Regions from separate parts of the Homo sapiens genome. Here all the other regions are reported to be linked to region 3. Evidence: microRNA targets listed by miRTarBase, many of them from high-throughput screens and not tested one by one. Region 3 holds a microRNA gene; each other region holds the end of a gene's coding sequence.
Evidence for each region. The annotated mature microRNA hsa-miR-4717-3p reads ACACAUGGGUGGCUGUGGCCU and lies in region 3 at 1,721-1,741, shown strand. An mRNA with a match to its seed (bases 2 to 7 or 8) in the 3' UTR can be bound and repressed. Matches are read on the target gene's strand: a 7mer-m8 pairs with bases 2 to 8, a 7mer-A1 pairs with bases 2 to 7 and ends in A, and an 8mer does both.

Region 1 (5,000 bases), not on the chromosome of region 3:
CAGATTAAAGCTGGAATCCATCCTGGCCGCACCTGTGGGGCTTTGCACACCAGCCTCCAAAGCCCCCTGCCCTCTTGCTCCTCACCTCCTCCTTGCTTTTTTATTTTTATTTTTTTGAGACAGAGTCTTGCTCTGTCGCCCAGGCTGGAGTGCAGTGGTGCGATCTCAGCTCACTGCAGTCTCAACCTCCTGGGTTCAAGCAATTCTCCTGCCTCAGCCTCCCAAGTAGCTGGGACCACAGGCACGCGCCATCACACCTGGCTAATTTTTTTGTATTTTTAGTAGAGATGGGGTTTCACCATGTTGGCCAGGCTGGTCTTGAACTCCTGACCTCAGGTGATCTGCCCGCCTTGGCCTCCCAAAGTGCTGGGATTACAGGTGTGAGCCACTGCGCCCAGCCTTACTCACTTTCTGAAACAGATTAGAGCCTCCCTCCACGATGACTGTTCCCTCTGCCCAGGAGGCCGTTCTTGGCCAACTGCTTGTCTCACCCCTCACCCCCTTCAGGTCTGTTCAGACATCCAGTTCCCAGAGAGGCTCCCCCAACCATTGTAAGCGACAGCCAGCCGTTTCTGCACACTCACCTTGCCTGCCTATCTTCCTGTTATATTTTTCACGGCAGAGCTCCCCACCCCTCCACCTGTGTCTATATAAGGTCTGTCCTCACTCAAACGTCAGGCTCCAGGAAGCCAGGACTCTGTCTTGCTCCTGGCTGTCGTACAGCAGATTCTCAACGAACCTTGCTTGAATGGCAGCATGGGCAACCAGGACACTTTGCCCTCGAGCCCTGCTGGTGGCATCCACAGCTCTCCATCTTCCTGCAAACACTCCGGGCCAGCGCCTCCCCAGACGCACCCCTGAACAGAACACCTCCACCCGGGGCGATGAGGTTTCTTTGAAGAGAGCTTTCATGTGCCCCAACCTTGGATTCCCCCCATTTTTAGGGCACGTAGGCCTTTCATACTTTACTGACAGCCTGGGTGTAACCAGTAGGAGTGACTATTATTGTGGGAGGTACTTAAACATCTTGGTCAAATAGGGCTTTTCCCATTGTGGGGGTGTGGGGGCACCCAATAAATAGAGCTTCATCCAGATGCTTCTATGAGTACACGGCAGTTCCTAACGAGCTCCGCGTCCTCAAATCCCAGCTTCCCTTTTGGTCTCTTTCGCATCTTTCCTCATAATCTCCATTCACTTTCACAAAACCTCAACCTGGACCCCTAAGGACACTTCCGTTTCCCCAAGTCTGAATTATTCCACCTGAAGCTCTCCAACCTGTATTATTAATAGAATTCTTGGCTGGGCGTGGTGGCTCACGCCTGTCATCCCAGCACTTTGGGAGGCTGAGGTGGGCGGATCACGAGGTCAAGAGATCAGAGATCGAGGCCATCCTGGCCAACATGGTGAAACTCCATCTCTACTAAAAAAAATACAAAAATATTAGCTGGGCGTGGTGGCGCACCCCTGTAGTCCCAGCTACTTGGGAGGCTGAGGCAGGAGAATCGCTTGAACCCGGGAGGCAGAGGTTGCAGTGAGCTGAGATCATGATACTGCACTCCAGCCTAGGAGACAGAGCGAGACTCCGTCTCAAAAAAAAAAAAAAAAAATTCTCAGGAGAAACTGTTTAAGACGCAGATAACTATGTACAACCCCGAAGAGATCCTGAATCAGCAGGTAGAGCCACGAAATGGTACCTTGAACAGATTCCAAGTGACTGATGTAGTGGCCACCCTGGTTCAGGAGTTCCTGGGGAGGGGCAGGGGAGGGCCAGAAGAAAACTATATTTTTAGCTAAAAGACCTCAGCTTCTGGCTTGGCATGGTGGCTTACACCTGTAATCCCAACGCTTTGGGAGGCCGAGGTGGGCAGATCACTTGAGCCCAGGAGGTAGAGGCTGCAGTGGGCTGAGACTGTGCCACTGCACTCCCACCTGGGTGACAGAGCGAAACTCCATCTCAAAAAAAAAAAAAAAAAAAGACCTTGGCTTCTGTGTGAGGGAATAGGAAGGGAGGGAAAGGTTTTCATTTTCCAGCTGTTTATAAAAAAATAAACTGGTACTTTGAGGTAATTTGCGTCACCAGATACCTATTCTAGAAACCCCAAGATCTGTGGGACATCCTTCCACATCAGTGGAAAGCCATTCGCAAAGAGGACAAACGGCTTCTTCTCTCATGGATCATTAACAATTCTCAAAGCTTGAACCCGTATCTGATAACCAGTCACATCTGGCTGGGGGCACTGTTTGAGGAAAGGGGAACCCTTTCCTCAAATTTAATAGTCCATGCAATCCTCACCTACAAGAGACTTAACAGGACACTTAATTTGCTAAACTTTATTTTATACATACACGTTTACATTTACTAGTCATGGTGTCAACTTGTTAACACAACGAAGCCCTAATGGACCCGTTTTGAAATTAGAAGCTGGACAGTTACAGGCTTTGGTCTCTTCAAGAATCCAATTCACCCCTGGGTTTCGCTTGGCACACACCCCAGGAGAACGTCGATGCACACAGCTGTGTAGCTGCAAACGGAAACCACTCTCTTTTCTCTCGTATTTTTCAGTCAGACTCACTCAGGATTTTGAAATGAATCATCACGAGAAATTTGTTTTAAAGTTGAATCACTGAGAACATCTAACAACTGTTCACATTCTTTATCACAAAAACTGAAGTCGGAAAAGACGCCCTGAAAACTTGCAAGGGCTAATACTCTATGATAGAATATTACTACTGTTCACCATGTTAATACATTTACTTACTACCATACACCTGAACAGTCACGGCAGAACAAGAGCATGTGAATGACGAAAGGAAACTTGCTTTCAGGGTGTCAGATTATAGAACATGCACAGGAATTTCTTCCACTTCTAACCTCGCTCATCAGTCACATTTACAAGAAACTCAATTTTAAGCAAAGAGATGCCTGAAATAACTAAGACGTGTACAAAAACAAGTTAACCTATGAACACAAGGTAATATTCTGATAGTCTTCGATGTGACTTCCAACATATCTGAGTAGTCACTTTTCAGTTTTTTAAACACGTGAGAAAAATAGATTTGGATTACATCTTTGTGGACGGCTACGATACAGTTTGGAAACCATTATCTCAGGGACCCTGCTCTCTCCTCTACACATGCGCACGCAAACACACACACACACACACACAATGACACATGGTGGTCTGGTCTAATATAGTGTGTCTGAATTCAGAGGGCAGACATTAACAGCCAAGTTTTGTTTTTTTGAGAGAGAGTCTCACTCTGCTGCCCAGGCTGGAGTGCCGTGGCACAATCTCGGCTCATTGCAACCTCTGCCTCCTGGATTCAAGCAATTCATCTGCCTCAGCCTCCTGAGTAGCTGGGATTACAGGCGCGCGCCACCACGCCCAGCTAATTTTTGTAGAGATGGGGTTTCACCATGTTGGTCAAGCTGGTCTTAAACGCCTGACCTCGTGATCGACCTGCCTCAGCCTCCCAAAGTGCTGGGATTACAGGCGTGAGCCACCGTGCCCGGCCAACAGCCAAGTTTTAAAAGATTTTTTTCCCCTCTTACTATAATGTGAGTAGTGACCTTCTGCTGCAAAGATGGTGACAGTTTGGTGCAAAGATGGTGACAGTTGGGTAGATGGATGGAATTAGAGCTGGGGACCTAGGAATGCCTGCGTCCTTCCCTATAATCACCCCCCTTCCCCACAGGATTCCTGAGAGGGCTCATCCCAAATGGGAATCAAAGTGCCATTTTTACTAACAGACTCTAAAACTCAAAGACTTTGAGGTCTAGGCAGACATTCTTTTTCCCTAAAACTAACTCTTGGGACCTCCTGGCTAGATAACTGGAGGATGGAAGCTGGAGACTGAAGGAGCAATAAAACCAGGTTTGCAGCGAAGGTCCTGGCTTAACTTACCCCGCTGGTTACACGAGAGGAAGGCGGGAGGAAGAATATGGCAGGGCCACCCAGCTCTTCCAAATGCCAGGGCCTGCAGAGGTCGCTGACCATTCCGAGGAGGGAGCAAGGCGTGGGGGAGAAAAGCTGAACATGGATGAGTGTAACAGTGACCCTGCTCATGCATAAAGGGGAATGAATGTTCTAGAATTTTCCCAATCCTCTTACCAACTCTCCTGCCTCCGAAGAGAAGGTGAGTAGAGAAGGCGGTGAAACGGCAGGCCTGGTAGAGAAAAGGGCATAGAGATCCACCTCCCTTCCCCAACTCCCTCCCACCCAAGACCTCACCTATCGTTTACCTCAGGGCCAGATCTCTATCAACAGGGGCCCTAAGAGAGTCCAAAGTCTTATTCAGTGACAAGAGAGAACTTGGTTGACTTGGTACTTCTTCCTTGTTCTTTCAACTCCTCAGTATGGGTGGTCCCCCAGATCAAACCTTTCTGGATTCTGCAAATAAATGAGAGAACAGATCAAGAAGGGAAGCAGAGAGGTGTCATTAGGAAATGCATTACTTCCAAGAAATTTCTGGGTCCCTGAACATTTCTATTCCCCAGCCAGGTCTCTAGAAAACTTCACCCTTAAAGCCACATACCCTGCAAACACCATAACTCCAAAGTATTAATATTTTTTTTGGGGGGAGGGGGGAACAGGGTTTCACTCTATCGCCCAGGCTGGAGTGCAGCAGTGTGATCTTGGCTCCCTGCAACCTCCACCTCCCAGGTTCAGGGAGGGTAAGAGCCCAGACCGCCCTTCCAGGAGCCCCTGAAGGCCGATGCTGGAGACATCTGGTGGGCAGATGTCTGGAGGCCAATCCCAGGCCTTGGCCTCCCCAGTAGCTGGGATTACAGGCACAAACCACCATGCCCAGCTAATTTTTGTATTTTTAGTAGAGATGGGGTTTCACCATGTTGGCCAGGCTGGTCTCGAACTCCTGACCTCAGGTGATCTGTCTGCCTTGGCCTCCCAAATCATTAAATTCTTTTTTTTTTTTTTGGAGACAAGAGTCTCACTCTCGTCACCCAGGCTGGAGGGCAGTGGCACAATCTAGGCTCACTG
Region 2 (5,000 bases), not on the chromosome of region 3:
TGGAGAGAAGCCTTTTAAATGTAACAAGTGTGGGAGAGCTTTCAGGGATAATTCAACTGTGTTGGAACATCAGAAAATCCATACTGGTGAGAAGCCATATCAGTGTAATGAATGTGGAAAAGCCTTTAGGAAGAGCTCAACTCTTATTAGTCACCAAAGAATGCATACTGGGGAGAAACCCTATCACTGCAGTAAATGTGGAAAATCTTTCAGGTATAGCTCATCCTTTGCTGGTCATCAGAAAACTCACAGTGGAAATAAACCGTATCAGTGTCGTGACTGTGGGAAGGCCTTTACAAAGAGCTCAACCCTTACTGGACATCAGAGAATTCATACTGGAGAAAAACCCTATCACTGTAAGAAATGTGGGAAAGCCTTTCGGCACAGCTCAGGCCTTGTTGAACATCAGAGACTCCATACTGGGGAAAAACCTTATAAATGTAATGAATGTGGGAAAGCTTTTCCCCGAAGTTCAGCCCTTAAGCAACATAAGAAAATTCATAATAAAGAAAGAGCCATGAAATGTAGTTAGTGTGGCAAATTGTGCAGAGTAGTTTATTCCTTCTGACCATCATAGAGGAGACATTAAATAAATTATGCATTTAACAGAAATACTCTGTACTTCTGAGAGAACACATCACTTGTGAGGATATTCATTGTGAGGTTCTACTAGTGAAATATTTGAAGAAACTAAATGTATGTCAGTATGGAAGTAGTTATAGCATACTGTGTGCTAATTGAAAAGAATGAGGTGGAGCTGTAAATACTGTACAAAGCCAGGCATGGTGGCATATGCCTGTAGTCCCAGTTACTTGGGAGGCTGAGACAGGATTGCTTAAGCCCAGGAGTTTGAGTCTGTAATGCACTATGATTGTGCATGTGAATAGCCACTGCACTCCAGCCTGGGCAACATAGCAAGACTCCATCTCTAAGTAAAAAAATACAACAGTAGAAATATACCCATGATAATATACCCAATATACCCTTGTTAAAGAAGCAAGTTTCAGGAAATCTATATTATATGCATTCAAAAAGACCTGGACAAATAAAGACCAATCTTAACAGCAGTTATCTCTCTCTCTCTCTCTTTTTTTTTTTTTTTAAAAGAAACTAGCTCTTACTCTGTCACCCAGGCTGGAGTGCCATGTGATCATAGCTCACTGTAGTTTTGAACTTGGGCTTGAACAACCTTCCCACTTCAGTCTCTGGAGTAGCTGGGGCTACAGGCACGTACCACCACACTCAGCTAACAGCAGTTATCTTTGATGAGGATGTAGTATAGGTTGAGCATCCATAACTGGAAAATCTGAAATCTGAAGTGCTCCAAAATCCAAAATTTGTCTGAGCACCAACAGGTACAAAATTCTACACCAGACCTTATGTGATGGGTTGCAGTTAAAATGCACCCCCGGCCGGGCGCGGTGGCTCACGCCTGTAATCCCAGCACTTTGGGAGGCCGAGGCGGGTGGATCATGAGGTCAGGAGATCGAGACCATCCTGGCTAACAAGGTGAAACCCCGTCTCTACTAAAAATACAAAAAATTAGCCGGGCGCGGTGGCGGGCGCCTGTAGTCCCAGCTACTCAGGAGGCTGAGGCAGGAGAATGGCGTGAACCTGGGAAGCGGAGCTTGCAGTGAGCCGAGATTGCACCACTGCAGTCCGCAGTCCGGCCTGGGCGACAGAGCGAGACTCCGTCTCAAAAAAAAAAAAAAAAAAAAAAATGCACCCCCAAGATTCCTTATTATTTGCATGCAAATATTGCAAAGTCCAAAAAAGTCTGAAATCCTAAATACTTCTGGTCTCACGCATTTCAGACAAGGGATACTCGACCTATATTGGTATGATGAAGTGAAATTATGACTTTGACTGAGTTCTTTGAAATGAAATATTTAATCAAGCATCATTCATGTATCTTCTGTAACTTAGTATAGTTATCTTCCTATATAAGAAAACTCAGAAGTCATAAAAATAAGACAAATGCCACACAGAAACTAAAAGCTTTTAGTTTCTGCAACTAGAGGCTTCGTAGTATTAAAATACAAAGGGCTGGACTTGGAGAAAATATTACCATCATCATATTTAACAGGTAACACTTAGACTATTTAGAGAGTCCTTAAAATACATAAATATAAAAATTCCAGTGGAGAAATGGTCTTGGATGTGAATGTACAGTTGTCAGAAAAAGAAATATAAATGATTATGCCTACCAACTTTGACCTTTTGACCTAACATTTCTACTTAAAATCTAATTAAAAAGTAAAGGTGGTCTTTACAGCATTGTAGTAATGAAGAGGTGGAATCACTGTAATATCTGTCATCAGAGGAATGTTGAAGATACATGCAGTCTTTGGACTACCATGTAGTCACTCAACATTTAATTAAAAGACAGTCCTTTAATTAATTAACATTTGGTGAGTTAGACTTTTATGAGCTGACAGGCAAAGTTGTCTATGACATTAAGTTGAAAAAGATCCAAAGTAAAGAATAATGGTATAGTACTTCTTTTGTATAGTCAATGCATTGCCTGAATATTTTGTGATAAAAATATATCATGGATATAGTTCACAATGTAAAAGCAATAAAGCAAACTTAGGAATGTTATAAAATAGAAAAGAAAGGATCTAAGTATTCAACTGATGATTGCAGAGGGCCAGATTTAATCAAAAGAAGCACGGCTGCACACACATAGATGATTGTTGGTAAGAACTGGTTAAGCTGCTTTGGATAACAGTTTGGCAACATGAATGTAAATGTAAATGTATGTTCTAATTGACCCAGAAATGCCACCCTCAAACATTTAAGGAAATAATTTGACTAACTTACAGAGCTTGTATTGCTCATCGTCATTGGTTATACTAATATCCTGGAAAGAGGTGGGAGAAATATCTAAGTAGGGAAATGTTTAAATAAGTTATGAAACTCTCATAGGCTAGCATCCCAGTTACTACAGATGTATAATAAACCGTCACACACTTAGTTGCCAGTATTTGTGTTCACAGATTTTGTGAGTCAAGGATTCAGAAAGGGCACAGCAGGAACAGCTTTGTAACTCCATGATGTCTGGGGTTTCAGTTGGGAAAACTCAAGGTTGGAATCAACAGTTGGTCAGTGGGGTCATTTGAAGCGGCCACACTATGATAGCCACAAGTGGCTACTGAGCAGTTGAAGTGAGGCCAGTCTGAATGGAGACTAGTGTGTTGATTGAAAATAGGACTGTAAGTATAAAATGTGCATCAGATTTCGAAGACTTTGTATAAAAAAAGAAACTAAACTATCTTAATGGTTTTTATATTGATTATATTTTAGATAGATTAAACTCAATGTATTAAAATTGAATTTTAATGTGACTACTAGAAAATTTAAATTTACATATGTGGCCTACATGTATGGTTCGCATGTTGCTATCAGACAACACAACTGAAGGCTCCATCACAAATTGGGTGGTTGATGCTGTTGGCTGGGACCTCAGCTAGGGCAGTTGCATATGAACACCTACATGTGACCTTTTTATGTGGCTGCATAGGCCTCCTCAGCTTGGTGCCTGGGTTCTGAGGAGTCAGGCAGAGAAACTGTTATTGCTTGTTGTGATCTAGCATCAGAAATAACAGCATCTCGGCTGGGCGTGGTGGCTCATACCTGTAATCCCAGCACTTTTAGAGGCTGAGGTGGGTGGATTGCTTGGGGCCAGGAGTTCAAGACCAGTCTTGGCAACTTGGTGAAGCCCTGTCTCTACAAAAAAATACAAAAAAATTAGCCAGGTCTGTGGCACGTGCCTGTAGTGCTGGGGAGGCTGAGGTGGGATGACTGCTTGAGCCTGGGAGGCAGAGGTTACAGTGAACCAAGATTGCACCACTGCACTCCAGTCTGGGCAACTGGAGTGAGACCTTGTCTCAAACAAACAAACAATAACGACAACAAAAAATTCAGTGTCTCTTTCTCCATAGTCAAGCCTGTCCAAACTCAAAGGGGAGGGAACATAGAACATACTTCTTTGGAGGAGTATCAGAGTCACATTGCCAGAAAAGTATATTCGATGGAATATATTATTGCAATAATTTTGGAAAATATGATCTATCATGGAATATGATACAACCATTAAAAAGGATAAAGTGGATATGTTGGATGAAGAAATAGGTTACAGGACAGTATCTGAAAGCTTATGGCAGCAACTTTGAAGTATAATCTTTGGAGTCAGGGTGCAAGATGCAGCTTACCTCTTAATATACTTTGTGAAACCACTGGCTAGTTATGTAGCCTGTTGAATTGTCTACCATGTACAGATAAAAAAAAAACTAGTTTTGTTTAAAGGAGGTAATTTTATAAAGTGCTTAGCTGAATACCAGATGCAAAGTGCAAGGTAAATGTTAGCTGGTGCTGTGTTAGTGATACTCATTTCTGTTTTTTTTTAAAAATGTATAGTATGTATATATGTACATGCACACATATATATGTACACATGTATATACATATATTTCACCTATATATTTTTTTAAAATATAAAATTAAAATTTCTGCATAAAAATATAAAATAAAAAAATTTCTCTCATATATATATATGAGAGGTCTCTTACAGAATTGATTAAAGATCTCAAAAGAACATGCTCCACCATCATCTATATCGTGTGCACAAGGCTCAAGAGGGACCAGTGGTTTTACCCACTGTCAAACACCATGAACAAAGCCTGGGTACTGGCTTGTCTTATTGAGGAAACCTACTTTAACATATGAAAACGAATAAAATATTTCAAAATGGTAATGATAATTATGGGATTTTTGGTAATGTATTTCATTTAAGAAGTTTTCATTTAAAAGAATAGGGTGTTTATTCAAAATGGGACAAGACAGGACAATAAAAGAAAGCTGACCAATATTCCTTATGAGCATAGAAGCAAAAATCTTGAATAGAATATTAGCGAATAAAATCCAGCAATATATAGAATTAATAATATAGAATCATGATCAAATGGGGTTACGGCTGGTTCAGTGTTTGGAAATCAATC
Region 3 (5,443 bases):
TACCCCGGCCTGAACTTGAGCACTTCCTTTTTTTTTTTTTTTTTAGATGGAGTCTCACTGTAGTCCAGATGGAGTGCAATGGCGTGATCTCGGCTCACTGCAAGCTCCGCCTCCCCGGTTCACGCCATTCTCTTGCCTCAGCCTCCTGAGTAGCTGGGACTACAGGTGCCCGCCACCACACCCGGCTAATTTTTTTGTATTTTTAGTAGAGACGGGGTTTCACCGTGTTAGCCAGGATGGTCTTGATTTTTCGACTTCATGATCCGCCTGCCTCGGCCTCCCAAAGTGCTGGGATTACAGGCGTGAGCCACCATGCCCGGCCAAGCACTTCCTTGAACACAGAGGTGACCATGAGGAGGGAGGCGTGAACCAGGATGACGGGGCAGCAGATGGAGCCTGCCTCCCTGAGACCTCAGGTGACCGAGTGCTGGACTGCCTCCTCCTGCCTACATGGCTGAGAAATAAACTTCTTTTTCAAACCACTGTGACCTGGGGTTTTCTGATACCCTCAGCAAGCCTGTTCCTGTGGCCTGGTGTGGGTCCCCTGACCTGTGGCCTGGGCTGCCTGTATCCGGCCTGCCCCTCTGCTCCGCTGTAAACCTGTGATGGCAGTGGAGGGGCTTGGCCTGGGCCCGCCCCACCGCGAGGTCTTCCCCTCTCCGAGTTCTGGGTGTGGTTTCAGTTGAGCCACGCCGTTGGACTGGGCCGGCCTGGAGGACAGAAGGCACAGGCTCTTCCACATACCTGGCTCGTGGCCCATGGGCCGTCTGCTCACGGGAGCCCTGCACCAGGCCATGCAGAGCAGTGAAGTCAAAACCTCGTTTCCCAGGTCTAAGGTGAACTGGGAGCAGGGCAGGAGTTGGCTCTGTCAGATGCCACAGTTGTTTGGGGACAGTGTCCGTAGAGAATGTGTGGCCCCCCTCCGTGGTCTAGGGTGGAGCGTGGATAGGCCGGTCACTCCTATCCCTGGGCCCAAGGCTCTTTTCCCCTGCCCTCCCGTGGGCTGGGAACTGCCACAGCTCAGACAAAAATCGGCCAGGGCAGGGTCCTGAGGCTTCAGTCCCAGGCTCCTTAGGGCACCCCTGGTGACCCAGCTCCAGCACTGAGTTTCCAGAGGCCTTGAGGATTTCCCTGGGATGCCAGATGGGCCCTTCCTGCTGCTCCTGGGGTCATCTAAGCTCCAGGCTTGGGTGCAGCCCTGGGCCCCTGCCACAGACGCCCTGAATGCACCTGCCCCTCCCGGTCCCCACGCAGCAGCCTCCTGAGCTGCGGATCATTTTCCTAAGAAGGCATTCTACTTGTGCCAGTCCTTACTTAAAGACCCCTGCTGGTGCTGGCAGCGTGCTACCGGGAAGGATGGTATCTCCTGTGCGTGTCCTGTGTACGCTGGCCTCACACGTGTGTGCCTCATGCGGGCTGTGCCCTCAGTCCTATACGCTCTCCCCAACCCTCTTTTAGGGTGTCACAGGAGAAAAATGACACATTCCTAAATCTCTAACACATGGGCTTGAAAACAAGTCTGAGGATGCCCTGCAGAAGGGCCATGGGCATGGACATGGAGCTGGGTGGCCTCGTGCACTGACCTTTCCCTCTTCCTAGCCCCAGGCCCGACCTAGAGGCCACAGCCCCTGCGGACAGGCTGTGGGGCCAGAAGGGCCCACTTCAGAACTTTTCTCGTGGGCAGTGTTTAGGCCACAGCCACCCATGTGTAGGGGTGGCTACACATGGGTGGCTGTGGCCTAAACACTGCCCAAACACGTTATATTTTTTATAACATGGAACTAGATGGCAGAAGTTTAAAGGGAATAAAAGAGCTACTGGAGACGATTTGCAGCTTTCATAAATTTCCAGAGACTGATAAAAACACAGACTTGAAATTGTCCCAAATGAGCCAAAGTGATGAAAACAAGTCTTTTCTAAAACTCTGAATTCTAAGGGAATGTAAAATGCAGAAGTTCAAATCGGGTTTAGAAAACCATAAGAAATAATAGTGCATTCGCCGGGCATGGTGGCTCACGCCTGTGATCCCAGCACTTTGGGAGGCCAAGGCAGGTGGATCACTTGAGGTCAGGGGTTTGGCAGCAGCCTGGCCAACATGAGACCTCGTCTATACTAAAAATAAAATTTAGCCATGCATGGTGGCGCATGCCCTTAGTCCCAGCCACTCCGGAGGCTGGGGTGGGAGGATTGCATGAGCCCAGGTGTTTGAGGCTGCAGTGAGCTGTGATACCACCACTGCACTCCACGCTGGGCAGCAGAGCAAGATCCTGTCTCCAAAAGACAAAACACAAAACAGTGCATAAAAAGGGGCCAGGCACGGTGGCTTATGGCTGTAATCCCAGTACTTTGGGAGTCTGAGGTGGGTGGATCACTTCAGGTCAGGAGTTCGAGACCAGGCTGACCAAGATGGTGAAACCCCGTCTCTACTAAAAACACAAAAATTAGCTGGGTGTGGTGGCGCGTGCCTGTTGTCCCAGCTACTCGGGAGGCAGAGGCAGGAGAATGGCTTGAACCCGGGAGGCAGAAGTTGCAGTGAGCCAAGATTGCGCCACTGCACTCCAGCCTGGGCAACAAAGCAAGACTCCATAAATAACTAAAAAGGGAGCTGATGAGGAGTTATTTCTGGGAAATGGCAAATGCCCACGGGTGACCCTGATGCCAGCAGCTTCTCTCCCACCAGACCTGTGCTTCCCACACAGCCCCACCTGCTCTTGTCTTTAGACTAAGAGCCTGTCACCGGGCGTTGATCTAGCCGGCTTTTTCCTTTGTGTTATGGGCCTGTTCCTTCACCTCAGTGTATTCTCTGCGTGTGCTCCCTTCTGGGAAAAGCAACGTCCCACGTTTGTGTGATTGAAATGTGAAAGGAGAGCCTCATGTCTAGATTGTGGGCGAGTGATTGAGCCCTGTGACCGCTCGCGCGTGTGACCCACAGACTGTGACTGTGTCCCCTCAGCATTTATTTTCTGGATGGTCACAACGTATTCAATGTGTCCTTGAGACAGCCACCCAGCCCTTAGGGTGGTCCCTGCGTGTCCTGGGGCGGGCGACTTCCTGAGGGTGCAGTGCTGGAAACAGAGACTGCTTCGAGCCTGGCCACCTTCCCTCCTGTGCCGGCTGCTTCTAGGAGATGCTGTGGGACGGTGCCCGGCTTCGCGGTGACTACCATGCCCTAAGGAGCAGAGCCTCCAGGATGCCCCCGGGCTGCGCTGGACGCTAAGACCCCAGCACCTAATCACAGTCAGCAGCTTCCCTCCACTGACAGTGATCTGCATGGTCCATTCCTGGCGGCCTGGGGGCCTCGCTACAGTTCAACCTGGCTGGCTTCCCGCTTCCTCCCCAGGGGAGATTAGTGTCGTGTGTAAACTTGGACAAGTCACTGGGTCCTCTCTCCAGGGAGTGCCTGGAGAAATTCAACCCCCAGCTCAGCTGCAGCCCTTCCTGGGTCAGCTCTCCACCCAGAGACCCCGGAGCTTGCCCGCAGACTGCCCGGCCTGCCCCAGCTCTGGGAAAGTGAACTCCAGAGTATGCAGACATGGAGATGCGCATGCTGATCCTGGGCATGAGGGCTGGGCTGCACTCGTCCATTCTGTGCATACTGCCTTGAATTTTTCATATCCATCATAGAAAAAAGTGATTAAAAATAAAGGATGAGATAAACTTGGAGAGAGAGGATGTAAGATGGGCCCTGCTTGCCCGTCCTGTCCCTGCCTGATGGCGAGACAGCCGCCACCCCTCATCGCCCCTCCTCTGCGGTGGGCGGCTGCAGGTGGGCGAAGCTCAGGAAGACCTGTTCCAGCGAGATCTGGCTCACGGAGTAGTCGTCCACGCCGTACTTTTCCTTGGCTTTCTCCAGAATACCGAAAACCTTTGGGGAGCAGAAAAGTCACTGGTAGGAGAGAACAGGGCCCAGGCTCCTCTGCGGGACCTGGGAGTCCTCTGGCAATAGGGGCTGATGAGGCCCCCACAATCCTACCCCTGCCCAGCGCCACCCCAGAGCCCCAGAGAGGTCAGCCCTGCGACGGCACCGTGCTCCCAGGTAGAGGACGCTGGCTAAGCAGGAGCCAGCGGGGATGGGGCCCAGCCTCCTCCCTGTGCTGTTCCCAGCTCAGATTACAACCTTGAGCCAGTGATGTTCCCTTTCTGAGCCAGTTCTTTTTTTCCCCCATATTTTTTTAGAGAGAGTCTTGCTCTGTAGCCCAGGCTGGAGTGCAGTGGCACAATCATAGCTCACTGCAGTCTCGAACTCCCAGGCTCAAGCGATCCTCCCACCTTAGCCTCCCGAGTGGCTGGGACTACAGGTATGCATGATACCTGGCTAATTTTTAAATTTTTTGTAGAGACGGGGTCTATGTTGCCCAGGCTGGTCTAGAACTCCCAGGCTTAAGCAATCCTCCCTCCTCGGCCTCCCAAAGTGCTGGGATTATGGTGTGAGCCACCATCCCTGACCCCTTTCCTGTTTTACACTGAATTCCTTTTACCACTGATAATTTTGGATATAAAACCCCCAAACCAGCACGTATCAGGCTGAGTGTTAGGGGAGAAATGGAAAGTGACTCCTCTGTGGAAAGAGCCTGCAGTCACCACAGAGGGAGAGACCCCTGGAGGGACCTCCCCCTGCCCCATGAGTGCCCAGTGGGGCCCCAGGGACTGCCTCACCTTCGCCCAGCTGAGGTCACGGCCCGGCAGGTGGTAATGGACCATGCCTTGGTGCTCATCTTCCAGGACGCTGCCTGCACAAAGGAGAGACGGTGTTGCTGTGAGCGCCGGGCTGGAGGATCGGGGAGGGTGCCTGGGTGCTCAGCACTGGAGTCCTCGTCCCAGGGATTGGGGAGATGGGACTTGGCGGGGCGAGGCACAGACGCTCCGCACAGCAGATGGGAGAGGCCTAGGTAGGGGCCCAGGGCCCACCCAGTGGGGGCTGCCGGGGCCGGCACACACCTGGAAAGGTCAGGTCCACGAAGGCCTTGAACTCCTCCAGCGCCTCCTGTTGCCCTTCACTCTGCACCTTGGCCCGCAGGGAGTAGCCGCTGCCGAACTTGCTCTTGAGGTGCTGGGGGCTGCCCAGGCACTTGAACTGCCCCTGCACCATGATGGCCAGCCGGGTGCACAGGGCCTCACACTCCTCCATGCTGTGGAGAGGGCGGGACCTCAGATAGGGCTTGGGGTGCCAAAGGCTTGTGCAGACAGGAAGGCATTGGCTCTCCGATCAGGCTGTTCCTGATACCCATGCTCAGTGTGGCTCACGGGCAGACTCTGCACCAGATGCTGATGGGTCTCCTGGCCACCTGGCTCCTCCATGGCCCACCCGGTGCTGAAACTTCCAGTAACCCACAGACCCAGGCTCTACCTGTGGGAGGTGATGATGATGGCCTTGCCAGACTCTCGGGCTCGTGCCACGGTGTCCCAAAGCAGGCGCCGGGCCACGGGGTCCATGCCAGTGGAC

Region 1: the mRNA of PNMA8A is a reported target of hsa-miR-4717-3p. Seed matches in the 3' UTR shown: 7mer-m8 at 3,172-3,178.
Region 2: miRTarBase lists ZNF485 as a target of hsa-miR-4717-3p. Seed matches in the 3' UTR shown: 7mer-A1 at 877-883.

What each region holds. Positions count from the first base shown.
Region 1 is chr19:46,464,187-46,469,186 of GRCh38, forward strand. PNMA8A (PNMA family member 8A) reads right to left here. Exons shown (of 3, transcript NM_018215.4): 3 at 2,317-4,391. The coding sequence ends at 4,375. Among named protein-coding and RNA genes, the nearest start is that of PNMA8A, 4.9 kb to the right of the region's middle.
Region 2 is chr10:43,616,838-43,621,837 of GRCh38, forward strand. It overlaps ZNF485 (zinc finger protein 485), which reads left to right. Exons shown (of 5, transcript NM_145312.4): 5 at 1-1,067. The coding sequence ends at 532. Among named protein-coding and RNA genes, the nearest start is that of ZNF32-AS3, 9.5 kb to the right of the region's middle.
Region 3 is chr16:2,272,941-2,278,383 of GRCh38, forward strand. It overlaps MIR4717 (microRNA 4717), which reads left to right and starts at 1,680; the gene lies at 1,680-1,751. It overlaps ABCA3 (ATP binding cassette subfamily A member 3), which reads right to left. Exons shown (of 33, transcript NM_001089.3): 30 at 5,348-5,443; 31 at 4,939-5,129; 32 at 4,657-4,730; 33 at 2,941-3,865. The coding sequence ends at 3,734. MIR3677HG (MIR3677 and MIR940 host gene) reads left to right here. Exons shown (of 3, transcript NR_132988.1): 3 at 47-132.